Linked DNA regions of Homo sapiens: region 2 is linked to region 1. The links come from fine-mapping of genetic effects on gene expression. A gene starts in region 1. The other region holds a variant in brackets. All regions are shown on one strand. Distances are between the middles of the regions. Region 1 holds the start of NOL6 (nucleolar protein 6). Region 2 has its middle 3.6 kb from the start of AQP3.

The links. PIP is the estimated chance that this variant, and not a neighbour inherited with it, causes the effect. A credible set is the group of variants that fine-mapping cannot tell apart.
Region 2: its variant is the best candidate, but not a certain one, in a credible set for the expression of NOL6 in adrenal gland (GTEx, PIP 0.66).

The regions. Positions count from the first base shown.
Region 1 is chr9:33,472,573-33,475,480 of GRCh38, forward strand. It overlaps NOL6 (nucleolar protein 6), which reads right to left and starts at 1,352. Exons shown (of 26, transcript NM_022917.5): 1 at 1,217-1,352. The coding sequence starts at 1,270. LOC107987061 (a long non-coding RNA gene) reads left to right here and starts at 1,568. Exons shown (of 3, transcript XR_001746648.3): 1 at 1,568-1,625. RefSeq lists an enhancer at 964-1,303.
Region 2 is chr9:33,449,782-33,452,689 of GRCh38, forward strand. No RefSeq gene overlaps it. Among named protein-coding and RNA genes, the nearest start is that of AQP3, 3.6 kb to the left of the region's middle. RefSeq lists an enhancer at 2,831-2,908. The variant A/C (reference allele first, on the strand shown) is at 1,357.

The DNA of each region.
Region 1 (2,908 bases):
TGAACATCACTGAGCGCTGAGCCGAAAATTCCTTGAGTTAAGAGCTCTCCTGTCTACCTGACACCACAAGCATGGAGCTCTGTTTGGAATTGGTAGTGATAGAAGCTGACTGGGCCCAGGCTGGACACGGTGGCTGACGCCTGTAATCCCAGCAGTTTGGGAGGTGGAGCTGGGCGGATCAGCTGAAGTCAGGAGTTCGAAATCAGCCTGGCCAACATGGGGAAACTCCGTCTCTATTAAAAATACAAAAATTAGCCAGGTGTGGTGGCACATGCCTGTAATCTCAGCTACGCGGGAGACTGAGGCAGGAAAATCACTTGAACCCAGGAGGCAGAGGCTGAAGTGAGCCGAGATCGTGCCATTGCATTCTAGCCTGGGCAACAGAGCAAGACTGTCAAAAAAAAAAAAAAAAAAAAGAAGCTGACTGAGCCCTGCCCTAAGTAATGCCCAGGCCCCTTGTATTTTCAGGAAGTTTCCTCTTCTGCTGATATAGGCCTGGGACTTCTCAAATGTCTTTCCCATTCTCGCTCCAACCAAATCCTGCCAGGTTCCACCTCCTCTAGGAAGACCTGACTGCCTCAGTTTACACTAAATACTCACTGATGGAAGGAGCTAGAACCGACTGGACCCCAGAGGACACATTTAGCAAGTCATTAAATCCTCAAAATAATTCTTGAAGACACTTGAAGTCCCACTATTCACTCGAGGTTCCACAACTGGTACACCCGTACTATGAGCAGGCTTCAAAGGCAAGCGTGCAGGATCCCAAACCTTTTCCCCTACAGCCGTGGGCCCATCCGCTCCACGATGCCTCTCATCCCAGAGAGCCTTACTGGAGCGCTCCAGGAGAGGCACCGTATGCCCTCCGCTACAGCGGGGAGCACAGAACTGGACACAAATTCTGTGGAGGAAGATCCCGCTTATCGTCAAGGACCACCAAATAAAAGAAACGACCCAAGTGTGGGTCTCTTCAACTTTGAGGTGCAGAGCTCCAGAAGAGAGCAGAGGCTCTACCGGCTTCACTGCTTCTAACCAAATACTGCCAGGTTCCATCACCCCTAGCAAGCCCTGTCTCAGTGCCACTGGCTGGAAACATCCTCCAGAATGGGCCGCCGGCATGGCTTTCACCCGCAAGCTGTCAGATCACGCCATCTCGGGCCCTGCAGCCAAGGGAGCGCACATTGAGCCTCTGTTCCTCCCCGATGGCTCAACCCACCTCTGGCTCTCCAGTCGCTCCGCGAAGCTGCTCTCCAGCTGGCGCCGGCCCCATCACTCAGGGTCCAGCACTCTCCCGCACTTCAGATTCTAGCCGGGTCTATACCTCATAGCTTCCCACGTGGGCGGAAATGCCTAACTCCAGGCCCAAGTCCAGCCCACCCCAATTCCTCAGGACTCCACCCACTCCAGAGCTATTGGATTATCAGTCGATTACTCGCTTGCCATTGGCCGGGCAGTCTCAAGGCCCGCCCATTAGGGGAGGGGACAAACGGGTTTCTGTGCTTTACGGCCTCTTCGCGACGCTAGAACGGAAGCCTGCCCGTAGCTAGGCCTTTGCTTTCTTTTCCTCACTTCCTTCGCGTGGCTGCAATCGGGAAGGGCGGAGCTAGTTTGTTCCTTTTGGTCAGGTTTGTTTACAGCAGTTATTCCTCCCTTTTTCTTTATTTGCTACACCTTATCAGTTAACAAATCTTGTCAGTTCTACCTCCAAAACATACCTTGAATTTATTCATTTTTCTGTGTCTTCACTGCCAGGTTTAGCCCGTCACATCATCTTGTTCCCGAATTATTGTTATGACTTTTCTCCAGTTTTTACTTATTACTTAGCTTATTACAATTTCAAGTAATTTAGTTATTTTTATTTATTTATTTATTTATTTATTTATTTATTTATTTATTTATTTTTGGAGTAGTCTTGCTCTGTCGCCCAGGCTGGAGTGCAGTGGCACGATCTCAGCTCCCTGCATCCTCCCTCTCCCAGGCTCAAGCGATTCTCGTGCCTCAGCCTCCTGAGGAGCTGGGATTACAGGCAGGTACCATCACACCCGTCTAATTTTTGTATTTTCACTAGAGATGGGGTTTCCTCATGTTGCCTAGGCTGGTCTCAAACTCCTGACTGCCAGTGACCCGCCCACCTTGGCCTCCCGAAATGCTGGGATTACAGGCCTGAGCCACTGCTCCCGGCCTATTTTTAAACTATTAAAAATTTAAAACAAATGTTGCAAGAATAATATAATGAATGCGCATATACTCTTCACCTAGATTCACTTAGTGTTACTATTTTGCCAAGTTTATCTTTACCTATGTATTTACATATTATTTTGCAAAACCATTTGAAAACCAATCACACATCTCCCTAAATACTTAGGTATGTATCTACTAAGATCAAGGACTACCTCTTATGTAAGCACAGCCCGATTATGAAATTAAGGAAATTTAATCGTGATTCAATACTAGTATACAAATTCCATCTTTAAATTTTGTCAGTTATTCCAGTAATAACCGTTATATGTTTCATTTTATTTCCTAATGCAGGATCATCTAAATTCAACTATTACCATATAATATATATATATATATATATATATATATATATATATATATTTTTTTTTTTTTTTTTTTTTTTTTTTTTTGAGAGAGAGTGAGTGTCCCTCTGTTGCCCAGGCTAGAGTGCAGTGGGTCGATCTCAGCTTACTGCAACATCCACCTCCTGGTTCAATTGATTATTGTGGCTCAGCTTCCCAAGTAGCTGGGATTACAGGCATGCGCCAACACACCAGGCCAATTTTTGTATTTTTAGTAGAGACAGAGTTTCACCATGATGGCCAGCCTGATCTCAAACTCTGGCCTCAAGTGATCTGCCCTCCTCAGTCTCCCAAAATGCTGGGATTACAGGGGTGAGCCACCGTGC
Region 2 (2,908 bases), 23 kb before region 1:
CACCAAGAAAGCCCCAGGGGCCACTGGGACCTACAGTCAAACTATGTTAGGTGACAGGACCATTGACATTTCAGGACAGATAGGCATGGACCCTTCAAGTGGACAGGTTGTGTCAGGAGAGGTAGCAGAAGAAGCTAAACAAGCTCTTAAAAACATGGATGATGACTCACTCCAGCCTCTAGCTCATGGGATCAAACAATCCTCCCACCTCAGCCTCTCAAATAGCTGGGACTACAGGCATGCATCACGATGCCCGGCTAATTTTTGTATTGTTTGTAGAGAAGGGGTTTCGCCATGTTGGCCAGGCTGGTCTGGAACTCCCGAGCTCAAGCAATTTGCCCACCTTGGCCTCCTAGAGTGCTTGGATTGTAGGATTATGAGTATTGCTAAACCCATCTCTTTGGGCATCAACCACCTCTGCCACATGCCTGTAATCCCAGCTACTCGGGAGGCTGAGACAGGAGGATCACTTGAACCCAGGAGGCAGAGGTTGCAGTGAGCCAAGATCACCCCACCTGGGTTCAAGCGATTCTCCTGCTTCAGCTTCCCGAGTAGCTGGGATTACAGGCATGCACCACCATGTCCAGCCAATTTTTTTGTTTTTTGTTTTTTGTTTTTTTTAGTAGAGACGGGGTTTCACCACGTTGGCCAGGCTGGTCTCGAACTCCTGACCTCAGGTGATCCACCCGTCTCGGCCTCCCAAAGTGCTGGGATTACAGGCATGATTCACCGTACCTGGCCTAGATAGGCATGTTAAAAAAGAAAAGAAAAGAAAGGAAATAAGGGCTCCCAGTCCCAGAGGTGGTTCATGCCCAAAGAGATGGGTTTAGCATACACATGAAGTAGATTCACATACATGCAGGTGCTTGCGCATACACACACACAAACACACAGACACACACACACACCCTGTGGTTTGCAGTCACACACTTGCCTATAGACACTGAGCTCTGCTCCCATGATCAGGGATCCCATTCACATGAGAGCCTCGCCATGGGCTCACACATATATAGAACCCCCACATGAGGACTCTAATGACCCTTGACCCAGAAAGATGCACCCTACCCTCCAGGCCTCTATAGGCTGGGAGGCCCCGTGGTGAATCAGGGAGCCATCACTGAGTACCTGCCCTCTGGCCCCACTGCCAGCCTGTGACTCAAGACAGAACCATAGACTCCTGGTGCCAGGGCCCAGATCACAGGCTATGGGAGTGGTAGAGCACCCCTGCCATGCTGCCCCCTTTTCCTCCCACCCTATAATATGCATCCAGCCCATCCCTGCCTCAAGTGGAGCTGCAAAGGCAGCACAGGGCAGAAACTGGCAAGGGACTCCTCAACACCGAAAGAAAATAGGGAA[A/C]CCCAGCCCACAACACCCCATTGTCACCCTGTCCCATCCTGGGTCTGCTGGCATCCAAATCTAGCCTGGGAACCAGAGCAGGGGAGAAAAACAGGGGAAGCTCTTTCACCAGCAGACACTACACACACTTCTATTTTTTATTTCTTTTCCTCTTCCCTTATAAAAGCAACCTGGAGGCCGGGCATGGTGGCTCGCGCCTACAATCTCAGCTCTTTGGGAGGCTGAGGTGGGCGGATCACAAGGTCAGCAGATCGAGACCATCCTGGCCAATAAGGTGAAACCCCATCTCTACTAAAAATAAAATAAAAAAAAATTAGCTGGGTGTGGTGGTGGGCGCCTGTAGTCCCAGCTACTCGGGAGGCTGAGGCAGGAGAATGGCATGAACCTGGGAGGCAGAGCTTGCAGTGAGCCAAGATGGCGCCACTGCACTCTTGCCTGGGCAACAGAGCGAGACTCCATCACAAAAAAAAAAAAAAAAAAAAAAAAAAGGAACCTGGCCTGGAGCCGGGCACAGTGGCTCATGCCTGTAATCCCAGAATTTTGGGAGGCCAAGCCAGGCAGATCATTTTAGCTCAGGAGTTCAAGACCAGCCTGGCCAACATGGTAAAACCCTGTCTCCACTAAAAACACAAAAATTAGGCCGGGTACGATGGCTTGCTCCTATAATCCCAGCACTTTGGGAGGCCAAGGCAGATGGATCACCTGAGGTCAGGAGTTCGAGACCAGCCTGGCCAACATGGATAAATCCCATCTCTACTAAAAATACAAAAATTAGCCAGGTGTGGTGGTGTGCGCCTGTAGTCCCAGCTACTTGGGAGGCTGAGGCAGGAGAATCGCTTGAACTCGGGAGGCAGAGCTTGCAGTGAGTCGAGATCGTGCCATTGCACTCCAGCCTGGGCAACAAGAGCGAAATTCTATCCCCTCGCCAAAAAAAAATTAGCCGGGCATGGTGGTAGGCACCTGTAATCCCAGCTACTCGGGAGGCTGAGGCCAGAGAATCGCTTGAGCCCAGGAGGCTGAGGTTGCAGTGAGCAGAGATCGCACCACTGCACTCCAGCCTGGGCGACAGAGACAGACTCCGTCTCAAAAAGCAAATAAACAAAAAAGCAACCTGCACACACATCTGTCTGCATTCACCTCACATGGGTTTTCTCGTGGGCTGCACCAGGAAGTAGCTAGTTACACACACAATTATGGATTTGTCTGTCTTATATACGTTGAGCAGCATTTATTTATACATATGCAGCTACCTGTACTCACCCATGTATGCATGCATGTATGTGTCTATCTATAATCCTGGACTGCAGCTCACCATAGAGTATCTTTGCAACCCCCTCCAGTCAATGCAGCTGCATGCCAAGGCACATGGTTTAGCTAGCAGAACAAGGGCTGGGTCTCAATGTCCTTGTTCCCCACCCCCTCCATCAGGGCCCAACCTTCAGGACCATGACTCCGTGAACTCTCACCAAACTCATTCATGTCCATACCTCATGTGTACACGCATGTTCATACATATACGTACACATACACATTGGAGTGGCTAGAGTTGGAA